6 separate regions of the Homo sapiens genome follow, and all the other regions are linked to region 2. The links come from fine-mapping of genetic effects on gene expression. A gene starts in region 2. Each other region holds a variant in brackets. All regions are shown on one strand. Distances are from middle to middle. Region 1 overlaps AKT1 (AKT serine/threonine kinase 1). Region 2 holds the start of INF2 (inverted formin 2). Region 3 overlaps INF2 (inverted formin 2). Region 4 holds the start of LOC124903396 (a long non-coding RNA gene). Region 5 overlaps AKT1 (AKT serine/threonine kinase 1). Region 6 overlaps AHNAK2 (AHNAK nucleoprotein 2).

Region 1 (5,215 bases), 97 kb after region 2:
CCAGCCAGCACATCCATGGCCCAGGGCTCCAGGCATGGGAGGTGGCTGCCCTCGGTGGGGGGTAGGCAGTTGGCCAGACTCCTGTCCCTGCCCGGGGGGACAGCGGAGACCAGGCTCCCTCGACTCCTCCTGCACCTCCTGGGCCCCACACAACCCCAGCCCTGGTCCCTCTGGCATCCCGATGTCCCGGGTGGCCCTCCGGCAGGAGTGACCTTCCATCCCCAACCCCGCTCATCCCCAGGAAGGGGCTGGAGCACCCCCAGGGAAAGAGGGTTCCTTCCCAGAAGTCCTCCTGGACCAAATACCGGGGTTCTGAGAGGAAGCTGCTCCTGCCTGGCCTCCCCCAACCCACCCCACCACCACCACGGGGACCACATGGACAGTCACAGGCAGCCCACCCTCTCCACGCCTCACACACGTGTCCCAGGCCACACTGTGGGTCAGGCCCCCCAAAGCGGCACCCACTTAGACATGGGGGCCAGGACCCACGCGCCATGGGCAGGACTGGGTGGGCCCCTGAGGGCCAGCTGGTGGCCCTCCACGTCCCGGGACTGACCACCTCCTGAGCCACCAGGTGTGTCAGCCCCCCTAGGCCACCACGTCCTCAGCTCCCTGAACATTCTCTCAAAGTCCCCAGTTCTCAGGAAACTGCTGGATAAACACTTCGCAGAGACGGTGGTGGCAGCGGCTGGCAGGGTGCCAGGCGGCACCGAGCTGCTTCTCCACAGCAAAGTGAGCCCAGCAGGCCCTGGGAGCGGGCGCCAGCTGACAGCGGCCACCGTGGTCCCCACTGCCGACACATCCATCGCCCCGACAGCTGCCGGGGGCCCATTTACCTTCTCCAGCACATTGAGCAGACGGCTCCGCTGACGGCAGCCCATGAGGGGCCCGCAACCCACCCTCCCCGCCTGCCAGGAGACCGCACAGCTCACCGCGAAGGGCCCGGCCTGCCAGGCCTCTGCCCGGGCCCGGGAGTACACACCCCTTTACCAGCAGCCCTCGAACCCTGTAAACAACCAGGCTGGGGTGGGGGCAGGGGAGGGGCCACACAACGGAGGCCAGCTGACCCCACTTGGCTGGAGCCCCCAGGTCTGTGGGTGAAATACATCCACTGCTCCTCCCGGCACAAGCCCTTCTGAGGGGGCACAAGTGGCCAGTCTGCACAAGGAGAGGTGTCTGTTCCCGCCAGGCAGAGGACTGGCGCTCCACCTGCCTGGGCCTCGCCCAGCCCAGGACCCATTCTGCTCTCCCAGAAAGCCCACCAGGCAGGCAGGGCGGGCAGGGCTCATCATGCCCATCAGCTCCCTGGGAAAACGGAGACTTAGGGGAGGTGACCCTCAGAGGCAGATCATGACCAGAGAGACCCCAGGTCCTGCCGCCAAGGCAGGGGTTGTAACTTGACACAAACTGCAAATTCTTCACCTCCTTCCGCTCCACCATGGAGCAGGCCTCAGCCCGACACACACACCCCGGGAGGAACATGGTGCGGGCAGGCGGCACCACCATGACCCCGTCCACCTCGCTGAGGCACAGCCGGAGGCGCTGGGGCCTCTCTTCCTGCCACTCCAGGGAAGCACCTGGGTCTCAGCTTTCCATTCTCCTGGGGCTCTACTGGGTGGGGTACTGGGCCTCCCTGGTGCTGCCCCTGACAGACCACCTGGGCCTGGATGTCCTCCCCCACAGGCACTGCCCGTCACCCACCCCTCGGGCCGGCAAAGGCACCCCACCTGCCACACACCCATCCATCGCAGAGCCCAGCACATCCCAAGACCCTGTCCCTGTCCCTGTCCCCCACCTCATTTTTGGTCTGCCCCAAACAAGCCCCACCCATGTCATGGCCCACCCTGCCTACTCAGGACCCCTGCAGATGAGGCTGCAGCCCCTCCCTGGCGCCTCCTACTCTGCCCCCGCCCACTCTCCCCATAACTTGCAGCAGGCTTTGCCAAGTGCCCTCCACCCAGTGGGTTCCCAGGGCCCTCACCCTCGCTCCCTGCGTGGGAGGAAGCTGGGCATGGGGACAGCACACAGTGCCTGCTGCGAGGGAGGGCTGGCCACAGTGTCCCACGTGTAGACACTGCCCTCGGGAAAGGAAGTGGGCACGGGCACAGGCTCCTTCCGGGGCTCGGCCGGGGGCACGCAGCCATGCCCACAGCCCCTCCCTCCTCCCGTCTCTCTTGGGCAGGGCCCCTGGCGGTTGAAGGGCTCCAGTGCTGGCCTCTCAATCCCTGACACCCCAGGAAAAGTGCCCTGCATTGCTGGGGGAACTGGAACCAGGCAGTAGGGACCTCGTCCTCCACACCGACCATGGGAAGCACCCGCCACAGAGGGGCCTTCCATCTCCCCACCATCTTGTTTCTGCCCC[A/G]ACTTGGAGCCACGCCTGGGGCAGGAGGGCCCCCAGAGCACGGCCAGCTGTGGAGGGTGCTCCTTCTGATCCCCCGGCCTGCTGGGACATTGTGGCCCTGACCCCCGTGGCCTCACCCCACACCTCACCAAGCTTGTGCAGCTCAGCGTCTCCGCGCCCTACACCTGGCTGCTGTGCCCCTGGCCCCAGTCTGTGGGGAGGCCAGCCAGACCCTGGCCAGCCGAAGGGCCTCTCTGCATTCTCCAGGCCCAGGGAGCAGCCACCTCCCCGCCAGGCCTGCCCAGGGGGTGTCTCCACCCCTGAGCTGGACAACCAGCTGAGGGCCTGGGCAGGTGGGCCCGCCAGGTTACAGGGTATGGGTGGGGTCTGCAGTCACCGGGCCCGCCTGGGGGGTGTGTGAGCCCAAACACAGCGCCCCAAGGATCCCACCCCAAAGCCCGCAACATTGGCAGCAGAGTCACCCATGAACTCCCAACCCCCTCAATTCCAACGTTTCTGAAATCCAAACCTATCATTCCTTAAGGTTCAAGGAAAACACACCTAAAGGCGGCATGGCAGGGAAGGGAACTCCCGTTGGAGATGAGGAAGTAAGGGGCCTAGGGTTCGCCTAACAGCCCCATCCTGGCCTGGAGCCCCAGGGCCCTCTGCCAACCTGCCCGGGGCCCCAGCGCTGGGCTGGGGGAACCTTCTCCTGAGGCCATGGGACTAGGCACAATGGTCCAAGCAGACAGAAGCAGCAGGCAGCTGCCCACCCAGGGTGGCCTGGGGAGCAGGCCCAGAGCCACAGCCACAGCCACCAGTCTCAGCTATGGGAGGGCCCGAGGGCAGGGTGCTGGCCCCAAGCCGGGCCGGGTGTGCCCAGGCAGAGGGGACGCCAGCGGGGGCCGCGCCAGTTCCCTCCGCTCAGCCTCGTGCAGGACTTCTAGGAACCCGGCCTGATGCAACCCGGCCAGGCTTCTCCTGAGAGTGGAAGGTGTACGGGGGTCTAGGCCCCAGCACAGGAATCATTCCACCCACATTCTGTCCACTCTCCTGGGCCTCAGTTTCCCTTCCCGGAGTCCAGCCCCCCACAGGGCATCCCTGCCCAGAGAGGGCCAGTGACCAAGAAACACACAGGAAGAAGAGCTGTCCACTCAGGAGCCACCAGGCGTGGGGGCTAAGGTCCAGGGCTGGGGCCAGCAGTGACCCCTCACCCCCACTCAAGGCCACCTCGGCTTCCTCTTTTGTTGTTTTTGAAGTGAGAACTCAACAAGCTCCCAAAACAGGAACCTCCCTGATGCTGGCGGCCTCCACCACAGCCATGCCATGACCTCCACCAGCCTGTGCCTCCTGCCCCTCTCCCGGGTAGGCCCAGGGCTGTTGGGACCCCCACTCTCTGCCCAGCCCTCCCACCAGGAGCCAGCACACTTGCCTCCCCATCTCTGTCCCTGGCCTGCCCACGGGGGCCGTTCCAGACCCTCAACGCTCCCCCAGGGGAGGCAGAGCTTGGCACTAACCAGCCCAGGGCCCGCGGGTCTCACACTGAAGCCACCTAGACGCAGCCTGGGGTTGACCCTCACCTGACAGCCTGGGAAAAACTGAGGCCCAGGAGGCACAGGCAGCCCTGGCCTGGAGCCCAAAGGTTCCCACAGGCTGAGGGGAGAGTCTGCGGGCTCCCTCCCTCAGGGTCCTGCTGGGCCCCTCATCCTGGCGGGGTAATGAGCAGCCTCCATCTGCACACAAACAATTAGCCCTGCGGGGCCCTCCGCAGCAGCTGCTCTCTGGAGTGGGCTCAGAGTCCCCCACAGACCTCTTCTCAAGGGTGTTTACTCAGCAAAGCCAAGGCCTCCTCCAGGATGAAGGGGAGTGGCCTGTACCCTCTGAGGTCCCCCACCTCACGCAGGGACCCCAGGACCAGCTGGATGGCTGAGCAGCAGCTGGGGATGCAGTGAGGTTCTATGTCGCTCACCAAAGCGAAGTAACACACTGGGGTAGGAACCACTCTCTCCCTGCCTCAGTGCCCCCCCGCAGGGACAGCCAGTGCCAGGACTTCAAGGCGGGGAGAGGGGGTGGGAAGGAGGCCCAGCCTAGGCACCTGCTTGGGGTCAGAGACCAGCCTCCATACTCCCCACCGGGACGCCTGGGGCTAACTCAGCAGGAGTGGTGAGGGGGCTGCCCTGAGGCCTGGACTGGGGGGTCTATGCCAGGCATGGGCCCGGGGTAGGGCATGGCAAGGACTCAGATGTCCGGAGACTGGACCCTCCGTGAGCCGCATGGACACACGGTCCCGTGTCACCCGGGCCCGGCCAGGCACCCAGATCCGTGGCTTGGACACGCTGCCCACACACTCAGGAGCGTCTGCCGCGTAACCCACGCGCCCCAGGCAGCTTCCCTCGACCCCCGCCCACTCGGCCTTGGCCTGCTGGGTCACAGCCTGCCGAAGGCAGCCAGGCCTGCAGCTCTTCCCCGGCCCCTCTCGGACAGCGACCAGCCTGAGGGAGTCCAGGTGGTGCCCCTGCGGCCGGCACCCACTCCTGGCCTAGGCCCAGCCCTTTCTCGAGAGCCCAGAGCACCTCATCCTGGGTCCCAGCATCCCGGCCACCCGCCTCGGCCCTCTCCTGACCCACTTGGTCCAGCCATGTGGACGGGGGGACGCTCAGGAAGACAGCCGCGAGTGGACAAAAACAGGCTCCAGGCCGGGGCTGCACCAGGGCAGCTCTCCACGGGGCTAGGCTGCAGCCAGGCTGGTGCACGGCCCCAGGAGTACTGGGGCAAGCGGGCAAGGTGAGCAAGCTGTTTGGGGAAAGTACCTCAAAAGAGCCACACAGCCTCTGGCCAAAGCCTGGCACGGAGCTATCAAAGGAAGGAAAACTG
Region 2 (5,215 bases):
CATGGCTTCCAGGAAGCAGCTCCGGAAGCCGCAGGCAGTGGCTGCAGGTGGTGTGTTTCTGAGGCCAAATCGGTCCTCTCTTCAACCCCAGGGCCAGGAAGCAAGCTCAGAATAGGGCCAGGATGGAGTCTGGGAGCGCTGGAGGTACAGAGGGTTGAGGGTGAGCCACTGAAGGAGAAGAGGAGGGGGCCTCTGTATGTCTCAGAAAATCAGTGCTCAAGCCGGGTTGAACCCTGCTGCCCCGGGCATGGTGGGTTCAAGCCTGACGGAAAACCCCCTTTCAGTGTCCACATTTCCACCCTCCCAGACCTCTGACCTCGGCCTCCACTCCACACACACACACACACATACACACACACACACACAGACACACACTCTTAATCAGGGCCCAAAGCCCTCCTCTGCACTCCCTGCCGACCCCAGGGACTTCTCCAACCTCTCTCCAACTAAATCACATTCACCCCACCTTCTTCACCCTGCTCCGGCCTGTGCTGGCCTCTCTGGACCAGGTGTGCAGCTCGGAAGCACGACTGGGTGCAAGGGAGACAGCCCCAGGCAGGAGCGGCCCTGGGGGCGCTGGGCCTCCCTCCCCCATCAGGGCAGGAAAGGTGGACCCCTCGCCCACACCTGACCTCCTACTCCAGCCTCTGAGTAAGGCTCAGGACTCTGACTTTCCCCCAGGCAGGTGGACAGGGGAGGGGGCTGCAGGTCAAAGCTCACTCCCCACCAACCTCCTCACATTCCTCCATTCACTGGATCAACAAACACACCCACTGCCCAGCACCGCTGCCAGGCATCAGCTCCCAACGCAGATGAGTCAGCCCCGCCCGTGCCCTCCAGGGTGGGGTGGTACCAGGGCAGGCACCAATGTTCGGGTCCAGGAGTGCACCAGGAGACCCAAAGCCCAGCTTGAGGGAGGGCAGGAAGGCCTTCTGCTCTGGAAGGGGCCCTGGAGCCCGGTGTGGAGGGCCGGAGGCCGGCCTTCCAGGTGCATTCCAAGAATTGCAGAGTGCCTGTCTAGGAGCAGCGGCCGCCCAGGTTGGAGGGTGTCCAGTGAGCGCCTGCCTTGGCTGGCTCCTCAGGCACACCCGGGGCTGTGGCCTGCAGCTGCTCCTGCACTGGGGCTGAGCCAGCAAACTTCCGGGGCTGGGGCTGCTGGGCAGGGCAAGGTCCGCACAGGGAGCAGACAGACGCAGCCTGCAATTCGGCGCTTATCCCCACCGGAGCGGAGGCACACCAAAGCCAAAGGACACGCAGCTGGCCTCAAAGCAGAAGCTGCATCGGGGCTGGGAAGCCATTCAGGAGCCCTTTTCTCTCCCCTCGCCCTCACCCTGAGCCCTGGCCGCCACGGCCCACACAGCAGGCCCTCCGGAGAGAGATGTCAGGACTCCGAGTGGAGACACTTTATCCGCATGTTCTTGACCCTCATACAGCCCTTACGGGTACTTATTCTATTTTACAGATGGGGAAACTGAGGCTCCACAGAGTCATATCCGAGCCTGAGGCCGCACAGGGAGTGCTGGCGCCGGTTCTCAGGGCAGGGGTTGTGTCTGCTCTGTCACATGTCACACGGGGGCTCCCCCAGGCCTGCCTTCCTCTGCCCTCCCTCTAGCTGCCAGTGGCCCCCAAACCCCAGGCCTGGTGCGCTGCTTCCTGCAGCTCTGACTGAGGGTCAGACGTCAGAAGGGACTTCCAGAGCTGGGGTCTGGCTCTCATCCAACCAGGCTGGCTTTCAGAGCCGACTATGGGCACGCCCCATGCTGGTCAATGTCGGCGGTGGGGGGATGGGTGCCCCCCTCAATCTAGGAGACAGATGAGGCCGGACAGCAGAGGGGTGGCAGAGAAAACCCACCCCATTGCGACACCTCCGCGGCCCTCATGCAGCTGTCTCCACCAACCGGCGAAGTGCGGCTGCCCAAGACCGCCGAGACCCCATCAAGGGTGGAAGGGGGTCAGGCAGGGCTGCGGAGAGGAGGCCACATGGGTGGCCTGGTTGATGGGTAGGCTCTCTCTCCCCAAAGCCTGGGAAGAGCCATCTCTGCTGAGGGATCCCCGAACGCGGGGACTCCGGATCCGGCTGGCTGGAACGGGAGTCCCGGGCCGGGGCAGAGAGAGGTGAGCGGCGCCTGGGAGGCCAGTCCCACCGGAGGATAGGGGTGTAGGTGGACGGGAGGCGGTGGAGGGCAGGGACGGGGCGGACAGTGGGGGCTGAGGCGGGAGACGGCCCCGATCTGCGCGTCCCACCCCCATCTCCGCCCACCAGGAGCCAGGCCAGCAGGGACCGCGAGGGGGCGGCCAGGTTATTCACGGGAGTGGGGAGACCCCTTAAAGCGCCCTCAGGGACCGGCCACAGTGGGCGGGGCCACCCCCAGCCACCCACCTCCCCCCCCAGGCCCCGCCCCCGGCCCGCGCTCGCTCCCCACGTGGCCGCTGACGGGCGGGGCGGCACCTCCTCTTCCTCCCGCCCGCCCCGCCCGCCCCGCGCCCGCCAGGAGCCACCGTCCGAGCCTTGCGGAGCGCGGCAGTGGGCGCCGGCTGCCCGCAGCCCCTGACCCGGCCCCGGACGGAGCGCCGGCCGCACCACCGCCCTCTGGCCGTTGCCTCACCGGGTAAGTCCTTGGCCTCGGGGTCCGCTTGGAGCTTCAGGGGAAACTGAGTCCGGGAGGAGGCAGGGGCGTGCTTGGGTCCAGGAGCGAGGTTCCGGGCTGCGGCGTGTGTGCCCAGGTGGCGGCGGGCGGTCCGGCGGCGCAGGGTACAGTTCCCGGGCGGGGACCCCAGGGCGCCCCTGGCCCCCCCGGCTCCGCGCGCCCCGCTCGGGACTATGGTCCTCCGCGCCGAGGCACCGCCCGAGCGCGCACTGGCCGCAGAGTGGTGGGCCCAGGGTCGGCCGGGCCTACTCCCAGGGCAGGCGGGATTTCCGCGCCTCGCGGCTGCCACATCCTGACCATGAATCAGCCACAGTTGGGAAAATAAACTTCAACTTCGGGTCCGCCGCCCGGGTGGCACCCCGAGGTGCGCGCCGGCCTGCGGCCCCACCCTGACTGCTTGGCTTCCAGCTGCCCACGCGCAGGTGGGCGCACAGGGAGCCCTTCCCACCCCGCAACCGCTGGCAGGCTTAGGGGAATCAGCCTCCATCACAGCTCTCTGTTCCTTTTGGGTGGGGTAGGATCCAATCCCTGTACGCCCCCAGACCCACCCGTCAACCCTCTAACTGGGGAGTCGCCCCAGGAGTGACCATGACTAAGGAGGGGAAGGCGGGGTGACCAGCTGTGTCCCTGACCGTCCCCAATGCCCCCTGGGGAGCACAGGCGTGGGGGGTGGTCTGTCTGTCTGGGCCTTCTGGGGCTCAAGCTCCCCACCCAGGGCTCCCGCAGCTCAGCTGTGACCACAGCATTACTGCCCACTCCAGCTGGACACACCAGGAGGCAGAGAGGCAGAGACCCTGCCCAGGCAGGGAACCAGGAACCCAGGAACCGGGCCAGAGGTCAGGCACACCCAGAAGGCGCTGGACGTAGGAAATTCCCTTACTGCCAGCCCTGCCCCTCCGTCTGGCACTGGAATGGAGCAGGATACTCGCCCTCTTCCGGCCTCAGTTTCCACATCTGCACTCTGAAGGGTGGGACAGCAGCTCAGGCTGGGACCTGCTCCCTGCCGCCCTGCACTGGGAAGGTGGGGTCCCAGAGCAGTGCCTCAGACCCCGAGGGTGCCACCCAGCCAGGGGCTTTTGGGGTGTCGGTGCTCAGCCCCCAGTGCAGCAAATAGTAGCATTGGGTTCCAGGCCTGGGGTCTGAGACCTCACACTGCTCCCACCCCTACCAGGGCAGCAGCAATTTTCTGTTCTAAAAGCCAGGTTGGTGCAGTGGGCCCTGCCCAGGCCCTGCCCTCCCATCCCTGGACTGTCATGGGCCCTGCAGCCCGGCAAAGGGGATGTCGCTAGTGGGGACGGACCAAGTGGCCAGGTGCGACTGTAGCCTCCACAGCCAGGGCTCCTGAGTTAACCTTCAGGTGAGCGCCCACTTTGTGGAGGAGCTGACGGCTGTCAAGCGAATGACACACACCGCACATGTGGGGACGTGGAAGCTCCTACCTGAAATAGACTCTGCGCCTTCCATCAAAGTGCAGTTACTTCCTGGGTTGGAAAAGTTATGCGGTTCATGCAGGCTGCGGGAGGGGTGGGTGGTGACTGGAAAGTGATGCGGTGCTGCCTGTGGGTGTGGGGCAGGACGCAGCTGGCCCAGCTCTGGACGGGGACAGTGAAGTAAGCTCAAGCCCCTGGCTTTTTGCTGGTGCCTGGAGGTCAAATTTCCCTGTAGTCAGGAATGAGACCTGACTCCCTGCTGCCAGCCCCTCCCCTACCTCCATCTTGCAAACAGCAGGTGTCTGATAGGTGTGTGGTTCATGGCCCAGTGGACACATTACATTGGAGAAGGCACACCCACCTCTGTTTTCAGGATGGTGGACGGGAAGGCCGGGAGGTGGAGGCCACATAGGAGCCAGTCTCTGGAGGGTGGTCCCCAGGGGCCACAGCAGACCCAGGCCTAGTGGACACCTAAAGTCAAAGACTAAGTTCTACCAACGGTGGGAAGGAGAGAGGGCAGGGGCACGGGCTCCCCGTCGCTGGAGGGGTGAGCAGGGTCCAACCACCTGGCCCCCTGTTAGAGAGGCTTCCACTCCTGCCAGCCTCACCCTAGGAGGGAGAGTCCTGCCTGGTCTGCCTCTGAGCACCCAGACAGCCTGGGTCCTGAGCTGGGGTGAGGTCTGCTCACACAGCTGCCCCCCAGCCCAGTGCCGGTATACCCTGGCAACCACCAGGCCAGGAGAGCAGGGCAGACCGGTGGTGCCTGTCCTCTCCTGAGGGGCCGTCCTCTCTCACAGCCCTTTCTAAGCTGTAATTAAATAAGGAACCACAGGGGTTGCTTAGGGTCGCCCCTCTGAGGGCTCATGTCAGTCCCCGAGGGCCAGCCTCAGGCCGGGTCTGTCCACTCACCATTCACGCCAGCCTGGGCAGGGTCTGTGTGCTGGGTGAGTGGGTGAGGAGGAAAGGAATGAGCCAGCCTGCGGGGTCCCTCCGCACGGTCTCCCACCCTCATCCCTCCCAGTGCGACGTGGGTCCTGCAGGAGCGTTCATTTCACAGGTGAGGCGCGGGACAGTCGGTGCCATTTTACACTCAGTGCCATCCATTCTGCCAGGAGGTGCTGATAAAGCCCCTACTGT
Region 3 (5,215 bases), 22 kb after region 2:
CCCTTCACCGCGTGACCGTGGGCAACAACTCGACTGTTCTGTGTCCCCCCTGCCCTGGCCACCCCATGACTACGTGGGGAAACCCTGCCAGGTGGGGTCCCAAAGAGGCTGGGTGGGGGTGACTCATGATTCACTCACCCCTGCCCGGTCCTCTCCCTGCTCCAGCTCCAACGAGGAGGTCGCTGCTATGATCCGGGCTGGAGATACCACCAAGTTTGATGTGGAGGTTCTCAAACAACTCCTTAAGCTCCTTCCCGAGAAGCACGAGGTAAGAGGACCACCCCCACACCCCACCCCCAGTTAGTGCCACCAACCAAGGGAGAGGCTGTCCCGGGGGCTCCCAGCAGGGAGACAGAGAAGGGAGGCATCCCAGCCCTACCTCTGCCCTGAACCGTGAGCCACAGGGAGCCATGATGGGCACTGGAGGGGCTGAGCCCGGCGGGCAGTCCGGGAGGGCGGGAAGCTGGCATGGGGGGATCCCACATGCCGTTCTCCTCCTGGCAGATTGAAAACCTGCGGGCATTCACAGAGGAGCGAGCCAAGCTGGCCAGCGCCGACCACTTCTACCTCCTCCTGCTGGCCATTCCCTGGTGAGCATGGCCGCCCTCAGACCCCAGGGCCTGGGCCCCAGGTGGGAGGAGAGCAGGAATAGGGAGCAGGGCCCAGCCAGGGAGGAGAAGAGGCTGTGCCAATGGCTGCCCCGGGCTCCAGGAGCAGCATTGCAGCGGTTGGGCTTCTAAACATCACTCGAGCCCCACCCCCAGTCCTTCCCCTCAAAGTGTGGGGCTGGAGGCCTCTGGAGGAATTGGATCCTGCTCTGCGCAGGCCCGGGAGGGTGCCTGTTGGATGGGGCAGGCGGTGGAAACCCCCTCCCTTTGCCCACCACCCAAGCCAGAGCCCTGTGCTGAGTGCCCCTCTGGCAGGGACAGGTGGGGGGTGCAGGCCACTGATCCCTGTCTGTGCCATCCCCAGCTACCAGCTGCGAATCGAGTGCATGCTGCTGTGTGAGGGCGCGGCCGCCGTGCTGGACATGGTGCGGCCCAAGGCCCAGCTGGTGCTGGCTGCCTGCGAAAGTGAGTGGGGCCAAGCGGGGCACGTGTGCAGGAGGGACAGGCCTCCGAACCGGGGCGGGAGGGCTGCTCGGGGCCCCTGCTACTGCCAGTATCATAATGGCTGCTAAGAGCACCTAAGGGTGCCAGCCTTCACCACCACTCCGGAAACCACCCTGCTGCCACCACCTCGGTGCACACACCTACTGGACGCACAGACACACGCATGCCCACCGCCACTCGGGCACGTGCACACACACAAGCACACTGCCACTCTCCGGCACGCGCACACACAAGCACACCGCCACTCAGGCACGTGCACACACGCATGCACACCGCCACTCGGGCACGTGCACACACACAAGCCCACAAGCACAGTCACACACATGCACACAGGACACACAGACACACGTACACACCCCCCCAACACACACACCCTCACATACATGTACAGACATAAGTGCACACACACGGGCACCATCTCTGAAAGGGGAATCCATGGGGACCTGCCACAGCCACTGGGCAGGGAGAGGGACAGGTACGGACCAGTGAGGCACAGCTCACGTCTGTCAGGCACACTGTAGGTGTCCACTCCCGTCGGTGGAGGGTTTGCAGCCCCCAGGCCCTGTCCTGTGATCCTTCCGGTGCTGGGCTGAGCCTGGGGAGGAGCCAGGGAGTGCAGGGGCACTGGCAAGCAGGACCACACCCCACCGCCAGGGCATCTGGGGGCTCCGAACCAAGAGCCCCTCTCCAGCCCTGGCTGCCCCTGCAGGCCTGCTCACCAGCCGCCAGCTGCCCATCTTCTGCCAGCTGATCCTGAGAATTGGGAACTTCCTCAACTACGTAAGTCAGGGGCAGCTCCCCATCCCACCTGGTGCCAGGGGCTGGTGAGACTCACTCCCTGCCCCTCCCAGGGCAGCCACACCGGTGACGCCGACGGCTTCAAGATCAGCACATTGCTGAAGCTCACGGAGACCAAGTCCCAGCAGAACCGCGTGACGCTGCTGCACCACGTGCTGGAGGTGGGCCGTGGTGGCGGGGGCATAATGGGAGGGCTTCAAGTCCCCCCGGACCTGGGGTGTAGAGGCGTAGAGGCCATACCCCCATGCCCACCACTCAGGCCGCCGGTCTCCCTGTCTCAGGGCTCCGTCTAGAGCCAGCAGCCTCAGTCAGAGCCACGCCCCCACCCCTCCCAGCACCCCTTCCTTCCTGCAGCACTGGCTCCCCTGCACGAGCCTTGTCCCTCCCCAGGATACCTGTCCCTGATCTGGGGGACAGTCCCTAGGAAAAGCAGAAACATCACAAAGTCATAGCCAGGCCCAAGGGAAAGATTTGAGGGTCTGGAGTACTGGGGGTTTTCTGGACCTTAATTGCTAAGGGTTAGAGCTGGGGGAGTGGGAACAGGGTCATCCCCAGGTGGAGAGTATGACCACAGTGGATCTCACTGGACGTGTCCCATTGCAGGAAGCGGAAAAGAGCCACCCCGACCTCCTGCAGCTGCCCCGGGACCTGGAACAGCCCTCGCAAGCAGCAGGGTAGGTAGCTCCTGCCAGCCCGCCCACCTCAGCCAGGTGGGGGCCTGACTTCTGTCCCCAGGCAGTGAGGTGGCTGCCCGCCAGGGCTGGGTCTCACAGCTGCAGCGCAGCCCCGGCGCCACGGAGCCCTGCCCAATAGAACACTTCCCTTTTGGGACAGGACCGGGTCTGCCGTGGCCTATCCCCTTCTGACTTAAGCGAGGAAACAGGCCTAGAGTGGGCAAGGGCTGGCCAGGTCAGGGTCACACCACGGGCAGGTCTAATACAGCCCCTTCACAAGGTGGACCTTCA[C/T]GACAGCCGTGAGCAGGCTCGGGCCTCCCTCATTGTATAGATGAGGAAACGGAGGCCCAGGAAAGCAGTGTCACCTCCTGGGTCACACAACCCAGGCAGGAGGGCAGCCTGGGCCACCCCACTACACAGTCCGGGCCCCTAGCACGGAGTTCTTCCCGGGCTCCACCTGCCCTGGAAGGTTCTCTGGCTCAGGAGCTGCTCAGCCTTGGGGAGAACTAGGCAAGCAGGACAGGCTGACCGTTAGGGTCCCCGCCCAGATGCTCACAGGGGGCTGAGGGTCAGCTGGAACAGGCACTCAACCCCAACACTGCACGTGCAGCCTCAGAGTACAGCCTGCAGGGTGCACAGTGGGGTGCCGGGGGGTGCAGGGGAGGGGCTCCCCTGTCCCAGCGAGGCTGACGTCAGCCGTTGCTGTCTCTGCCCGGCCCTCCTCACCTTTCAGGATCAACCTGGAGATCATCCGCTCAGAGGCCAGCTCCAACCTGAAGAAGCTTCTGGAGACCGAGCGGAAGGTGTCTGCCTCCGTGGCCGAGGTCCAGGAGCAGTACACCGAGCGCCTCCAGGCAAGTGGGCACCTGGGCCTGGGGCTGGCGGGAGAGGCTGCCCTGATAGAGTGAGCTGGGCGAGTGGCTGTGCTGTCTCCTGGCTCCAGGGTGGATCCTGGGGCCCGAGTTTCCCCAGGTGTGCATGGTCAGGGCACAGGCCCCTGCTCCTTGTCAGAGACCACCGTCCTCAGGGCCTGTCCCTGTGGCCGTCACCCTCCCGCAACTCAGGGCCTCACCCCGGGTGGTGCCCGCGCGGGGCTCTCACGGGACTGTCACGTGCCCTTGCCCCCAGGCCAGCATCTCGGCCTTCCGGGCACTGGATGAGCTGTTTGAGGCCATCGAGCAGAAGCAACGGGAGCTGGCCGACTACCTGTGTGAGGACGCCCAGCAGCTGTCCCTGGAGGACACGTTCAGCACCATGAAGGCTTTCCGGGACCTTTTCCTCCGCGCCCTGAAGGTGGGGCAGCCCGGCGGGACACAGCCTGTCTGGCTAGAGTGGGGTCCCGAGGCCCCTGGCCTTCCTCCGGCAGGATGGGCAGAGGCACCTTTCGTCGGGCCGACACAGCCATGTGGGCCCTGCGCTGCTGCGGCTCAGGGAGGGGGACGCCCAGGCCCATGGAGCCCCTGAGGGATGCCACGCTGGGGTGACGGGGCCACATCTGCCAGTGCAGGAGAACAAGGACCGGAAGGAGCAGGCGGCGAAGGCAGAGAGGAGGAAGCAGCAGCTGGCGGAGGAGGAGGCGCGGCGGCCTCGGGGAGAGGACGGGAAGCCTGGTGAGGCTGGGCCGGCTGGGCGGGGAGGGGGTGACTCTGGGATCCTTGTCTGTGCTCCAGCCTCCCCACCACCCCCAGCCCTCTAGGTGGGCTCCAGGGTCCCATGCCGCTCTCTGAGTGCCCCACGCTCCTCAGTCAGGAAGGGGCCCGGGAAGCAGGAGGAGGTGTGTGTCATCGATGCCCTGCTGGCTGACATCAGGAAGGGCTTCCAGCTGCGGAAGACAGCCCGGGGCCGCGGGGACACCGACGGGGGCAGCAAGGCAGCCTCCATGGATCCCCCAAGAGCCACAGAGCCTGGTAAGACCCTCTCCCACTGCCTCCTCATGGTCCCCTTGCCACTGTCCCTACCCTGTGCCTCCAGGAAGTCCTCCTGACTTCACTGGAAAGCCCTCTCCTCTCCCTGGGCCACCCTGGAGGCCCCTAAGACTGGGGACAGCCGAGGGGACAGGTGGTGGCCGCTCAGCCCTCATCCCTCCCTCCACTCACTCCAGCTCCTCCACTGTAACCGCAGGCCCTGCCCTCAGTGCTGAAGCAGCAGTCCAGCCCGCTGGGCTCCAGAGAGATGAGGCCAGGCCCACTGACCGATGCCCTTGGGCTCAGAGGGTGCTAGAGGTGGCAGGAAAGGCAGGCGGCAAGGCCCTGGTGGGAGGACCCCATTCCTGGGGTGGCTGCCTCAGGGTGCTGGGAATGGCATGGCCCAGTGTCCCCCACCCTGCCACAGTGTAGACAGACCAAGGACGCTGAGGCCGGGTCCTGCTCTGAGACATCAGAGGAGGCTTTCTGGGGAGGAGGTTTTGCAGGGCGTTCAGGTAGACAGCGGAATGGAGGAGGCTGCACCTGGGCTGGCTCGGGGGCAGGGTGCCTGCCCTTCACTGGTGTGTCCCTCCATCCAGTGGCCACCAGTAACCCTGCAGGAGATCCCGTGGGCAGCACGCGCTGTCCCGCCTCTGAGCCCGGCCTTGATGCTACAACAGCCAGCGAGTCCCGGGGCTGGGACCTTGTAGACGCCGTGACCCCCGGC
Region 4 (4,000 bases), 49 kb after region 2:
TTTTTTAGAAATGGAGTCTTGCTGTGTTACCCAGGCTGGCCTCCAACTCCTGGCCTCAGGCAATCCTCCTGCCTCAGCATCACAAAATGTTGGGATTATAGGCATGAGCCACCATGCCCCACCAGAGCGGTGCATTTGTGACAATCGATGAACCTACACTGACAGGTCATGATCACCCAGAGTACATAGTCACCTCTGGGTTCACACTTGGTGCTGTACATTCTACCAGTCTGGACAAACGTATGCTGTGTATCTGCCACTATAGTATCGTACAGAATTTTTTACTGTCCTAAAACCCCCGAGCTCCACCCATTTCATTCATCTCTCCCCCCTCAACCCTCGGCAGCCACTCACCTTATGCTGTCTCCTCAGTTTTGCCTTTTCCAGAATCTCAGAGTTGGAATTGTACAGTATGTCGCCTTTTCGGATTGGCTTCTTTCACTCAGTAACATGCATTTAACTTTCCTCTATGTCTTTTCATGGCTTGAAAGCTCATTTCTTTTCAGTGTTGAATAATACTCCACTGTCTGGATGGACCACAGTTGATTTCTCCTTTTGTTTACTGATGGGCCTCTTGACTGCTGCCGAGTTTCGGCGATTATGAATAGAGCTGCACATCTACGCGCAGGTTTCTGCAGGGACATCAATTTCCAGCTCCTTAAATACCGAGGAATGTGTTTTGCATCCATCACCACCATCCACCTCCAGAACTTTCTTATCTTCACACACTGAAATGCTGAAATATCAAATAACTCCCCAGTCTCCCTCTCCCAGCCCCTGGCGCCTCCCATTCTACTTTCTATCTCTATGAATTTCACTTTTCCAGGGACTTCATATAAGCGGAATCATCCTGTTTGTGTCCGTTTGTAACTGCCTTATTTCACTCAGCATAATGTCTTCGAGGCCTGTGTCAGAATTTCCTTCCTTTTTTAAGGCTGAATACTCTTCCATCGTATGGGTAGACCGTGTTCTGCTTACCCATTCATCTGTCAATGGACAGCTCTTGGCTACTCTGAATAATGCTGCTATGAACATAGGTGTGCCCATTTCATGCTGGGTTGTTTTTTGTTGTTGTTTGTTTGCTTGTTTGTTTTTTGAGACGGAGTCTCGCTCTGTCACCCAGAGTGCAGTGGCAGGATCTCAGCTCACTGCAACCTCCGCCTCCCAGGTTCAAGCGATTCTCCTGCCTCAGCCTCCCGAGTAGCTGAGATTACAGGCATGCGCCACCATGCCAAGATAATTTTTTGTATTTTTACTAGAGATGGGGTTTCACCATGTGGGCCAGGCTGGTTTCGAACTCCTGACCTCAAGTGATCCTCCTGCCTCAGCCTCCCAAAGTGCTAGGATTACAGGCATGAGCCACCGCACCCACCCATTTCATGCTGTTCTTAATGTATGTTTTCCAGTGTCTGGGACACAACTCTGTCTCTCATGCCTCTGTCTCTCATGCAGGCAACGGGGTGGTCATCCACTTGCCAGGCTTGTTTGAGGAAGCAGAGAAGAATGAAAAGAAAGGTAGGTCCAAGCTCCTGCAGACTTGCCCTGTCCCAGACGCGGTGCCCTGAGCGGTTGTTGGCTGGAGCCTTCCTGAGGGTTTCTCCCACGGAGGGGACTGGCAGGGGTGGGTTCCCAACATAGCTGGCCCAGCTCATCACCCGCCGGCTCTACCCGCGCAGAAAGCGAGTGAGCTGGGCAACCCAGAGGCCTCAGATGCTGGTGGCCTCAGCATCACGGGGCCAGGTAGCACCTGGGAAGTCCAGGAAGGAGCCAGGGACCTGGACCAGACACCCAGTGGGAAGTGGGGACTGCTGGCCTAACTATGCCTGCAGGGAAGGATGTGGCTCCTGGGGGCTCTGCGGAGCATCTGGCCAGGCACGCAGAGGCCAGACCCACCAGCTGGGGGTGTGGGCAAGTCAGACCTAGTGTGGGCAGGGACGGACGGCAGCCTGAGTGGGTCTGGGAGGACGCTGAGCTGCAGCCTCAGGCTCAAGGGCGGGACGGGT[G/A]TGAAAAGAGCAAGAATGTGATTCTGGGGACATGGGCACCAGGGGGTACCCAGACTGAGGCCCTGAGGGGGCAGGTCACCTTCAGAGTGGCAGCAGCTAGGGAGGAAAGCCGGGCACTCACACCAGCTCTGGCTTCCCAGCCTGGAGTGGGCGAAGCCTGCAGGCACGAGAGTGGGCATCCTGGCGGCGGGGTGGAGTGAGGGTCCGGGAGTCTCAGCTGGGGAGGAGACAACGAGGGGCGGGTCTGCCGCTTGCTGCGCAACAGAGGTGGCCCTGTCAGCCTCCTCCCTGCATGCCTTACCTGGATGGGAGCCGGGCGAGCTAGCCCAGCTCTGGCCCCTCACGTGTGAGCTGCAGCGCACCTGTGAACACTGACCCACCTGTGTGCCGTGTCCCCGCAGGCCTGAAGGACTGGGAGAAGAGGCTCATCATCTCTGACAGAGCCCACCTTGGTACGTTTCCCACTGGAGTACAGGGAACAGCCCCTCCTGCCCCCACCATTGCCAGCCGGCCCTGCTCCTACATGGCCACCGAGATCAGGGAAGTCCCCAAGGCCTTCTTGCTCCACATGGCTCCATTAGCTTGTACATTACCCTTTTCAAAGAGCTTCAAGTTGGGAGCTGGGTCAGGGGTCACTAGCCCATTTGCAGGTGGGGAGACTGAGCCCCAGACACTCATGGTCACACCCCAGTTTGTCCTCTTTGAAATCTCAACCACCCCCTTCCCAGGAGACTCAGGCCAGCAGGAGGTGAGGTCCATGTATACACATCTGTCCTCTGCTTCTCTCCTGTCTCCTGCTGCCCTCACCTGGCCCGCCCGACAGTGTTTGATTTTCACCAGGCTGTCGACGGACTTCAGGAAGTGCAGCGCCAGGCACAAGAGGGGAAGAAGTAAGTCTGCCGGGACACTCTCACCCTCGGGGAGTCTTCTGGGCCCGTAAGCCGGTAGACTGTGGGGCGTGTCTGGTCCTGGGCACAACGAGGAGGGTACCTCAACCCACTCAAAGCCCCTGGAGAATGGCACCGTCAAAATTCCACAGCGCATCACCCAACCCCCGGACGAGCCAGCCCGTCTCTCTCTGGGGTTGCACACTGTCCTTGCCGGCTGCCACTGCCACGCGGCTCCCCCCAGGAGTGCATAAGCCCTACCGTCACCTGTCACACCCACCACCTTTCCTGACTCCACACGGCCCCAGGGAAGACACGAGGAACACTAAAGCAGTTTAGTAGAACCTCAGATGTGCCAAGGACACAGGAGTGAAGCAGATGAGTGTCCTGCCTCAGAGAGGTGATGGTCACACACTTACCCACTCACACTCTCACACAGGCACACACTCATGCTCTTACATACACACCACACGCCCACGCATGCTCGCACAGTTATGCACATGTGCACACGCCACACAAGCCCACACACCCACGCAAATGCACAAAAGTACACACAGCCACACATGCACACACTCCACATGCACACATCCACCCACAGGCACACACCATACCAGTACATCCATGCTAGTGCGTACACCCACACACGCACACACTCACAGCTCAGCCAGACACAGGCAGCAATGGTGGGCACTGGAGTCATGAGCCGGCGGGGGTCATGGCCTCAGTGGGATGCCTGAGCTCCTCAGGGCTCCTGGGTTCTCATGGGTACCCACTCCCCATCTTTCAGTATAGGCACCACCAAGAAGGGAATCGGACCAACCTACTCTTCCAAAGCTGCCCGGACAGGCCTCCGCATCTGCGACCTCCTGTCAGATTTTGATGAGTTTTCCTCCAGGTACCTGAGCCGTCTGCAGTCCCCGGGGAGGATGGGGAGAAGTTGCCGGAAGGGACTGTGGCTAGTGGGGAGGGCCCTGAGGACCAGCATGGACCATGACAGGGGGTGATGATGACTGTCCCTTGTGCAGATTCAAGAACCTGGCCCACCAGCACCAGTCGATGTTCCCCACCCTGGAAATAGACATTGAAGGCCAACTCAAAAGGCTCAAGGTG
Region 5 (4,494 bases), 83 kb after region 2:
ATGAAATAAATTAAAACCCGCAGGATAGTTTTCTTCCCTACCCCGCTGCGGGGGAGGGTGCTGCCCACAGCACAAAAACGTCTTTCCATCTGGGCTCGAGAGGACAGCGTGGCTTCTCTCAAATGCACCCGAGAAATAAAAACCATTAAATACAGATCATGGCACGAGGCCGCCTCTCCATCCCTCCAAGCTATCGTCCAGCGCAGTCCACCGCCGCCTCAGGCCGTGCCGCTGGCCGAGTAGGAGAACTGGGGGAAGTGGGGCCTGCGCTCGCTGTCCACACACTCCATGCTGTCATCTGTGGGTGTAGACAGCTCAGACCCCGGTGCCCCACCTCCCTGCCACCTCCACCCACCCACAGCTCCAGTAGGAAGCCAACCTCTTAAAGCACGGCCAGCACGCTGCCATACTGCCAGGAAACTGAGACAGGGCCCCACAGATTGACACAGGGACCTGGGCCCTCAGAGCACTGCCTCCCACCCTGATCATTGGCACTCTCCAAAAGGAACCTTTTTAAATATTTAGATTTTAAAACATCTGAAGCCAAAAAAGCTGAACACTGCAGGCCTCTCTGAGTGTGGAGAGAAAAGGGAGTGGGCGGGGGCAGGCAGTGGCCCCTCACCTTGGTCAGGTGGTGTGATGGTGATCATCTGGGCCGTGAACTCCTCATCAAAATACCTGGTGTCAGTCTCCGACGTGACCTGGGGCTTGAAGGGTGGGCTGAGCTGCAGAGGTGGGCAGACGGGACAGTCATGAGCTTCGCTCCCCACTCCCAGCACACCCTCAAGTGTGCTCAAGACCTTCAAAGCACCTGGATCTCCAAGGGGTCTCCAGGCAGGACTGATGTCAGAGAGCAGCAAGCCACCAGCCCCCCACAGAGGCAGCTCTGGGAGGGAGGGACATGAGGGGTGCAGGAGCACGGAGACAACCCTCAACAGCTGAGACGCAAAGCTGCCCTCACAGCAGCCCCAGCAGGCGACAGGAGGTAGTGCAGCCCAGCTCTGAGAGACCCTCCCTGCTACCAGGAGGTGATAACTTTATTTTTCCTTTTTCTTTCTTGTTTTCTTATTTTTCTTATTGGTCTTCTTGTAAATTGGGAAAGAGGGAGACTGTGGAACAAGGTGCACAGGATGAGCCCACCCTGCCTCCATGGCTCAGGGACTACAGGACCACAGCCTGCTGGCATCTGGCTGCAGACAGGACTCTCAATGACCCAGGATGAAGGGTGACTATAAGGTGATGTGCACACGTGAGGAGCTGCCAGAGAGCCCCTCAGGTCCCACAGTCAAGGACCCCCTCAAGCACTGCCCCACCCCAGAGTCTGGGCTGGGCACCAGCATTGTCCATTGTCAATTAGCAAGGTCTCTGGTCAAGGCTGGGCAGAGGTTGAGCACTGCCCAGGCCCCCCATACCCTTGGAGGGCAGGGCAGGAGGGTGGCAGGCCTCAAGGCAGGAACGGGGACCAGGACCAGGGCACCCTGTGTTAATGGGAGAACAGGTGCCCAGCTGGGTCCCAGGGCTGCCCAGCCCGACCAGCTGCACACAGCCTAGGACAGGCATTCAGGGGAGGGGCAGGCTGGGAACGGGGCAGAAGCACACCTGGTGACAGGGCACCCAGCATCTCAGAGTGCAGGCTTCCGAACCCAGCTGGCAGACCCCATCAGCTGGGGTGATGGCCAGGGCTCCTAGGGTCCCTGAAAGATGAGCACCCAGGATGGCGACTCATGCAGAAAGAGCTGCCTCCCTCCAGGGCGGACTCCCCCATGTGCCAGAAAAGTAGGTGCTGTCCCTGTCCCTGCACAGCCAGAAATAGGGCTGGGCTCTCCTTGCGGCAGAAGGGATTGAGGTCAAACAGGAGGAACTCGTGGAGGCCAAGGGGCAGCACCCCTGGTCCACCACCAGCCAGCCTTCACTGCACAGCGTCAGGGAAGGGAACCCCAAGGCTGGCACTCAGAGTGTGACACACCTCCGAGGGGAGGAGGAAACTCAGAGTGTGACACACCTCCGAGGGGAGGAGGAAATGAGGACCAGGCCAGTTTCCTGGTGGAACCCGGCAGTGCCAGAGCCTCTGAGCACCAGGCGCTGAGGTTGGTGCAGCAAGGCCCTCCTTGTACCAGGACTGCAGCAGGCTCCTGAGGTGAG[GGCGA/G]GTGTGTGGGAAATCTGGCGAGCGTGCCACGTGCATGCGTGAGTGTGGATATGTGGGGAGCATGCGTGCGCGTGAATATGCGGGGAGCAGCCGCACCTTCTTCTCGTACACGTGCTGCCACACGATACCGGCAAAGAAGCGATGCTGCATGATCTCCTTGGCGTCCTCGGAGCCCCCGCCAAGCCTGCAGGCAGGAAACAAGGCCACAGTGTCGGTACCGCCACCTGCCCAGGCCCTGGGTTCAGGCCCCTTCCTCCTGTGATGTAGGGCCCGCCAGACAGGACGTTCCGGGGCCAGGGAGGGGAGCCGGTGGTGCAGCGTCCCTGAGCAGCTGTGGGTAGCAAAGCACCACAGAGCTCACGGCAGGGCAGGGGCTTCCTGAGTGGGTGGGTGCAGGCTGCAGGGTTGGGGACAGAGGCCCAACTGACCCCGGCCTGCCCGCCACTCTGCTTGGGCCTGAGGCTTTGGAGATCAGCCCTGGCCAAGGACATCAAGCTTTGGCTATCAGTGTAGTCTGGGAGGTGCCAGGACCGCCTGGCGCAGGGGCAGGTGCAGCCTGGGGATGAGGGGATGGAGGTGTAGCCTGTAGCTGGGATGGGCGGCCCTCACCTCTGCTTGGGGTCCTTCTTGAGCAGCCCTGAAAGCAAGGACTTGGCCTCGGGACCAAGCGTGCGCGGGAAGCGGATCTCCTCCATGAGGATGAGCTCAAAAAGCTTCTCATGGTCCTGGTTGTAGAAGGGCAGGCGACCGCACATCATCTCGTACATGACCACGCCCAGCCCCCACCAGTCCACTGCACGGCCGTAGTCATTGTCCTCCAGCACCTGCACGGGTGGCAGATGGGCAGGACTCGGCATCAAGGGGTGTCCGGGACACTGCCGGGGGAGGTGTGACGTGCTTGGGGCACAGAGAGGACACAGCATTGCGTGTGCTCAGGACGTGGGGACGCAGCAACGCGTATGCACGCAGGTGGGGCGCACACCTCGGGGGCCAGGTACTCAGGTGTGCCGCAAAAGGTCTTCATGGTGGCACCGTCCTTGATCCCCTCCTTGCACAGCCCGAAGTCTGTGATCTTAATGTGCCCGTCCTTGTCCAGCATGAGGTTCTCCAGCTAGGGGAAAGGTGGCCTCAGGTCAGTGCCGCCAGGCCCCCAGGGCCCTGCCCCCCTGCCTGCCCGCCAGCGCACCTTGAGGTCCCGGTACACCACGTTCTTCTCCGAGTGCAGGTAGTCCAGGGCTGACACAATCTCAGCGCCATAGAAGCGGGCCCGGTCCTCGGAGAACACACGCTCCCGGGACAGGTGGAAGAACAGCTGCGGGAGGCGCAACCTGAGGCACAGCCGTGGCTCGGGCCTCTGCCCCCATGGCCTGCAGGGCTGGGGTTTCTCAGACCGGGTCTCGGCATTGCACAGGGAAGGGACCAGCCACCAGAGGGCACGGGGGCCTGGAAAGTCTCAGAAGCCCTAACTCAGCAGGAACAAGTCACCCCACAGCAGGCAGCTGCCTGGGCAGGCATCACACCACCCACCCAGCAGGGAGCACCGTCTGGTGCCATGGAGAGTAGCCGAGGCTCCGGGAAGGACCGGCCCCACCATGGGCGGCCCACAGGCCGCGAAGTCCATCCCCCGCAGCCCCAGCCCCTACCTCGCCCCCGTTGGCGTACTCCATGACAAAGCAGAGGCGGTCGTGGGTCTGGAAAGAGTACTTCAGGGCCTGCAAGGAAGGGGAGCTGGAACTGCGGCCCCACAGGCAGGACGGCAGCCCCGCACCACGCTGCCCGACACCACGCTGCTTGATACCACGTCGCCTGATACCACACCGCCCGTAGCCCCACACCACACTGCCCGACACCACGCTGCCTGATACCACACCGCCCGATACCACACTGCCCCACACCACACACCCCATCACACTGCCCCACACCATACACCCCCACATCACACTGCCCCCATGCCACGCTGCCCCACACCACACTGCCCCACACCACACTGCCTCATGCCACGCCACCATCAGGCTGGGCCCCGGCAGCCCCTGAGGTGCCAAGGAGTGTTTGAAAGGTGAGCAAGGTGGCCTGGGCTCAGGTCCTCCAGGGTGAGTTGGGACCTCAGCAGGGGACAGTGCTCCCAGCACCAGGGCCTTCGCAAAGGGAGGACACACCCTCCCAGGCGAGACCCACCCTCCCGCCTTCCACCACAGGCGACTGTGCTTTTAAAGCAAAGGCCCCATCTGCAGGAGAATCGTCCCCAAACACAGTGACCTGGAACTAACCAAGTGGCTGGACCCTGGCCCCCTTCACAGTAAATACCTCCTGGGCCAAGTCCCCAGAACAGGTTCTGCAGGACAGAGCCC
Region 6 (5,215 bases), 250 kb after region 2:
ACCTTGAGTGTGTGCAGGACCTGTGCCTTGTTGTAACCAATAGAATACAGAGGTAAGGGGATGTCACTCCTGTGACACCTTGTGATCATGTGACATAAGATTATAACATTATCAAGGAATAGCAGTCTATCCCTTGCTAGCTTTAAAAAGTGAGCTGCTAGGCTATGAGCTGTCCTATGAAGAGGCCCATGTAGCAGGGTACTGGGGTTGCCTCCAGCCCCCAACTAGCAAGAAACTGGGGCCCTCAATCATCCCATCCACAAGGAGTTGAGTGTGGCTAGCAACAACGTGAGCTTCAGAAGTGGCTGCTTTCCTGGTCATACCTGAAGGGGAGACCACAGCCCCAGCTGACATCTTGATTGTAGCCTAATGGGACCTTGAGCAGAGAACCCAACAAAGCCACACTTGGGCTCCTGATCCACAGAAACTGGGAGATCATAAATGTGTGTTGTTTTAAGTTGCTAATTTGTAGTGATGTTCTTATGCAGCATAGATAACTCATACACAGAGAACCAAGGCCACGCGAGAACCCTGTGGGGGCCCCTGCTGCTCAGCCACTCCTCACATGCTGGGACAGCTGTCTCTCTGGCCTCTAGCACCAAGGTCCCCACTATCCCAGGCCTTGACTCTTGGATCAGAGAGGGACAAAAGCCCCATGGAGCCAAGCAGACTCCTCCCCCTGGGCTGCACTCACCTAGCTTGTCTGGCACACACAAGTTGGAGTAGAGAAGGCAGGAAGCCCTGGGAAGGGAGAGGGTGATGGCCTTGCTTAACTGGGATGAGTGTCCACCAAATTTCCCTTCCCACTTCCCCTGCTCATGAGCCCCCAGGGGACCTGTGTCAGTTCACTTTCTAGAGGCTTCTATGTGCCCTAACTTGGATGACACCCACGGGCCTCCCCAACTCAGCACAGGGAACATATGCCCATGGTGGCATGGGGAAAGAACCCAGCCTCTCCCCTGCCCAGGCTCCTGCACCCCATAGCTGTCACCCCTCTGGAACCTCTCAGGGCAGCACGAGTGGTAGCCTCGGAGTGGCCTTCACCCTCCAGGCACTGCGGTCCTCCAGATTGGCTCACAGCCCAGCTCTTGCTCCCATATCCACAGCCATGAGAGCAGCCACCTCCCCAGGGGGCCATAAGCGCTTCTCACCAGGAGCCCACCTAGGCCAGGAGGGAGCTGGGGGCAAGTTCCAACTGCCCCCTTGAACACTGCATACCCATGAATCTGGCAGGGGCATCTGGGAAGAGATTTGACCACTGAAAGACTGTAGGGAAACCCTTGAACCTCAATCCGCTACGCCACGTGGATTTGCTTCCTGTGGGCTGCCCAAGAGCGCCTCTGTGGTGAAGGAAGCTTCTGAGGATGGGCCACTAAAGATGGCCAAGGTCACCTTTCTGTGCTGTCCCCACTCTGCACTCCATCTCCCATCCCACACTGCCTCCAGCTGGAGGGAGGGAGGGAGGGTTGTACGTCTGTGTCCCTGCCACACTGTGAACTCAGCCCTATCTTCCTTGTCTTCCTCACAGCCTCTGGCTCAGAGGAGGACCTGGACAAATGGATGATAGGTAGGCAACCACCCAAATGTTCCTCATTGACTGTTCTCTAGAGCTGCTTAGTAGAGACCAGGAGTGTGTGGGAGGAAAGCCCTGGTAAACTTCGACCCTGAGACAGAAGACCTCAGCAGCCTTCAGCATGGGATGCAGCACTTTCTTTATTGCCCATCCAGGGAACAGCCAAGCCAGCTCCATCTGCATTCTGGCTGCAGCGTGTACATTAGGGGACTCAGGGGCCACAGTGTGGGACCGTGCACACTGGCAAGGCACTGGCGGATGCTGGCAGGCCAGTGGACATGGATAGATGAGAATGACAACTCACAGATGTCCTAGCTTCTGCTGGCCCAGCTGCCAGCCACTGGCCATCACCCTTTTGCCCAGCATGTGTGCATTGTCACCCAAAACATCTTGAAACTTGCCATTAGTGAGGCATTCAACAAAGAAGTAAGCTAAGTGAGTAGGAAACAGTGTTTCCTGGAATATACCGCACTCTGCCTGAAATAGGAAAACTATGTTTGCCGGGAAGCAGCAGCAGCAGGAAAGAAGTTATACCAAAAACGACTTGTACACCACAGACATTATAACCCTTTCCTCAAAGAAACAGTCATGTTCTGTTGGGTATTATGGACAGGTCTCTGGAAATTTATCTAATAAAGACCAACAAACTTCCCCAGCAGTGCCTCTGAGTACCGTGTGAATTCTGGTGTCTTGTGGAAGTCAGGGTGCCTTCTTTGCATCCAAAGCTTTGAGGGAGCTGGGAAGCTTTGGTTCCATTTTAGGAGGGCTGTGTGATGGTGACAAAGGTGTTCTGGTCATTTCTGCTCTGTTCTCCGTTCTGTGAAGTGAGGTGGATGTAATGTGCTGTGGGATGGGGTGCTCCATATGTGTGTGTAGCCTTTACTTTCCAACTTAGTTTTTTGCATCTCTCTTGTACTGATGAGCCATACCTCTCAGCCTTCATTTGGTCCCAGGCCTGACCCTTTGCTTTCATCGTCAGCTTTTCTGTCCTGCTCGGGCAGGATTAACTCTGTTCTTGCCGCGGATGTCACCATCACTCTGGAGTCCAGCCCAGTGCCCACAGGCCCGATCAGTTCACCCTCTTCCTTCTCTTCAGGGGAGAAACTTTCTCGGGCATCAAAAAACGTGATTGTTTCTTCTTGAAGTTTTTGTTCTTCCAGCTCTGCCCCATCTTCGGTGCTTTTGCTTTTCTTGGTAGGAGATGAGGAGAACCCTAATTTGGGAAATCGGAACCAGCCTGCCTTCTCCTGTTTTTTAGGCAGTTCTGCCTCTGGTCGTGCCTCAGGCTGTGTTTGAATGGGAGCAGATCTCTGGACGTCATTTTTGGAATCAACACCTGTCTCATCAACAGAAGAGGAAAACCCAATGTTTGGAAGCCAAAACCAGAGCAGACCAGATTTTTTACTTTCTGGTTTGTCTTTTGGAGCCCTGCCTTCATCTGCCAGTGGTGTGGTTGCCTCTTGGCTATCATCAGGGGGAAACTCAAGAATTTCTGCTGGCTCCTCATCTGAACAGCTGTCTGCAAGCTGGTGGCCAGAAGGAACTTCAAATGTGAGTGTTTGCTGTCCCAGTACATTGACGCTGGAAGAGATCATCTCAAATGGTTCTCCAGTGTCAGGCTG[G/A]AGATCTCCAGAAATGGAGTCTACTCCTGGGGTGGCTTGTATGGGAGCCTCTTCTGTGCCCTCCTGAGTCCTAGAGTGTTGAGTCATTGTTGTGTACACTCTAGCCTGCGTGTGGGGCTCTGGGATTTTCACTTTTAATAAGGAAAATCCGTACGAAGGTGTTTGAATCTCTGACGTGGGGATCTCTGATTCCCGCACAATCTGAGTGGAAAAAGTCCTGGGTACTGAGAGATCTACAAACTCTGGTGTCACTATGCTGTGTATAGTGACCTCTTGACTTTCAACCTGAGCACCCTGAATATGCACTCTGACCTTTGAAATTGGGGGAGCTTCCAAAGGCAGGTTAAGGTCCACAGGCTGCTCCCCAGGGACCCCAGCACCTGCCTTCAGGATGCTGGCTCCCCAGAGCCCCGGACTTTCCTTACAAAGGGCTGTATCAATATTGGCCTCTGGACACTGCACTTCCCTCACAGTGGGGATGAACACATCATCCTCTGAGCTGGGGGCAGGGAAGGAGAACCTTGGTACCATTAATTTGGGGAATTTGACAGTTAGGACAGAATCTTCCCACAGTTGATCCACATTAACCACAGAAATCTGGGATGGCATATCAGTACTTGAAGCTTTCAATTTAAGTGGACCTTCAGGCTGGGAAGACCATTTCTCTGTTTTATCCTCCATGCTGGCAAGGTCATGTCCTGGCTTGGAAAGAGGAGTCTCATCTATTTCTCCTGGAAGAACCTGGGTTTCTGGAAGCCTCATGCCAGGCATCTGAAAAGGGAGAGGTCCTTTGGATGGATGGATCCTGACCTCAGAAGTGGAAAGCTCATCCCCAGTCATCCCAGCAGTGGAGAGGTGCAGCTTCAAGCCTGTGCTGTCAAGATCACACCTTAGAATATCTGTGGATGATTTGCTCTCAGAAGCTGTCACTTCTGCATCTGCCTCTGGGAGCTGTAGGGACATAGCTGCCTCCACGTTTGACCCAGAAACAAGGAACTCTTTGACTTTAGCTGCTGCTTCACCCCCTGTTGCTGCCGGTGCCTGTGTCTGAGCCACTTCCAGCTTTCCAGCCCCGCCTCTGTCCCTGAAAGAGCGCCTAAGGCTGGGCATGCGGAACTTGGGCATTTTAAACCAGCTTTCCTGCGAGTACTTGGTCATGGCTTCCTCCTCTGGGCTTTCCACTGTGAGGACTTCAGCATCTGGTTTTCTACAGGATGGCTGGAGGGGATCTTCAGGTGTGGGGGCTATCCCCTCCCCACAAGGCTGGCTCACTGGGACATCCCCGAGCCCACATCCTCTGCTGTCACCTTCGGTAGACAGATCATGTTTGGGAAGAGGCAGGTCAGCTTCAGGCTGGCTCACCTCCACCTTGGCCTTGGAGGATCTGAGATCAGGTTTGGCAAAGCCCAAACTGGGAATGTGGACCTGTGGCCGGTGGAGGTTCACACCCTCACTTCCTGTGGCACTTGCTGTTGCACCAAGTCCTCCCCTACCACCGTCACTGCTGGCCTTTTCTGTGTCTTGAAAGCTACCCCCTGCTGTGGCACTAGAAAGGGAAGGATCCACGTCTCTCTGTGGCAGGCTGACCCCACTCTTAGAAGCCTTCATTTTGGGAAGTGCAAGTTTTGGCATGGCAAAGCCAGGCTTTGTGCTCCTCCCCTTCTCTCCATCCCTCTCAGGAGGCAGATCCATGTGGATGGCAGACTGCGGGGCCACTTCATCCTTGTCTAAAACCAGGCTGAGTTTTGAGTCCTCCACGCTGCATTCTGGGTCCACCTTTGGCCCTGTTTCCTTCTTCGGGGACCACCTAAATGATGGAAGCTTAATCTTAGGCATTTTCAAGGGACTCCCTTTCCCTTCGTGGTCAGCATCTTCAGAAGGGGCTTCTCCAGGGGCCACTACTGATGTCTGCAAGGAGGCCACAAGCTCTTCTGGGCCCTGAGACACACAGGTGCCTGGGGATGGCAGCTGGGTGCTTGGCAAGGGGCACTGCACTCTTTCTCCAGGGCTAAGAGGAGAC

Evidence for each region. PIP is the estimated chance that this variant, and not a neighbour inherited with it, causes the effect.
Region 1: its variant is fine-mapped to the expression of INF2 in blood mononuclear cells (TOPMed, PIP 0.98).
Region 3: its variant is fine-mapped to the expression of INF2 in whole blood (TOPMed, PIP above 0.99).
Region 4: its variant is fine-mapped to the expression of INF2 in whole blood (TOPMed, PIP above 0.99).
Region 5: its variant is fine-mapped to the expression of INF2 in whole blood (INTERVAL, PIP above 0.99).
Region 6: its variant is fine-mapped to the expression of INF2 in whole blood (INTERVAL, PIP above 0.99).

The regions. Positions count from the first base shown.
Region 1 is chr14:104,784,310-104,789,524 of GRCh38, forward strand. All of the region lies in intron 3 of AKT1 (AKT serine/threonine kinase 1), which reads right to left. Among named protein-coding and RNA genes, the nearest start is that of AKT1, 8.8 kb to the right of the region's middle. The variant A/G (reference allele first, on the strand shown) is at 2,363.
Region 2 is chr14:104,687,131-104,692,345 of GRCh38, forward strand. It overlaps INF2 (inverted formin 2), which reads left to right and starts at 2,488. Exons shown (of 23, transcript NM_022489.4): 1 at 2,488-2,609. RefSeq lists enhancers at 482-1,469, 1,470-2,459 and silencers at 2,152-2,411, 2,512-2,601, 2,622-2,861, 2,952-3,001.
Region 3 is chr14:104,709,116-104,714,330 of GRCh38, forward strand. It overlaps INF2 (inverted formin 2), which reads left to right. Exons shown (of 23, transcript NM_022489.4): 11 at 166-268; 12 at 505-590; 13 at 973-1,073; 14 at 1,822-1,892; 15 at 1,964-2,071; 16 at 2,514-2,584; 17 at 3,318-3,438; 18 at 3,713-3,877; 19 at 4,092-4,194; 20 at 4,330-4,491; 21 at 5,088-5,215. Among named protein-coding and RNA genes, the nearest start is that of ADSS1, 13 kb to the right of the region's middle. The variant C/T (reference allele first, on the strand shown) is at 2,876.
Region 4 is chr14:104,736,924-104,740,923 of GRCh38, forward strand. It overlaps ADSS1 (adenylosuccinate synthase 1), which reads left to right. Exons shown (of 13, transcript NM_152328.5): 3 at 1,453-1,515; 4 at 2,405-2,455; 5 at 2,827-2,893; 6 at 3,678-3,785; 7 at 3,916-3,997. LOC124903396 (a long non-coding RNA gene) reads right to left here and starts at 591. Exons shown (of 3, transcript XR_007064365.1): 1 at 355-591. The variant G/A (reference allele first, on the strand shown) is at 2,004.
Region 5 is chr14:104,770,123-104,774,616 of GRCh38, forward strand. It overlaps AKT1 (AKT serine/threonine kinase 1), which reads right to left. Exons shown (of 15, transcript NM_001382430.1): 9 at 3,790-3,858; 10 at 3,333-3,458; 11 at 3,129-3,257; 12 at 2,756-2,970; 13 at 2,243-2,330; 14 at 623-725; 15 at 1-298. The coding sequence ends at 219. Among named protein-coding and RNA genes, the nearest start is that of SIVA1, 19 kb to the left of the region's middle. The variant GGCGA/G (reference allele first, on the strand shown) is at 2,143.
Region 6 is chr14:104,935,558-104,940,772 of GRCh38, forward strand. It overlaps AHNAK2 (AHNAK nucleoprotein 2), which reads right to left. Exons shown (of 7, transcript NM_138420.4): 7 at 1,696-5,215. The coding sequence ends at 2,506. It also overlaps a transcript of PLD4 not described here. Among named protein-coding and RNA genes, the nearest start is that of PLD4, 13 kb to the left of the region's middle. RefSeq lists an enhancer at 3,938-4,438. The variant G/A (reference allele first, on the strand shown) is at 3,196.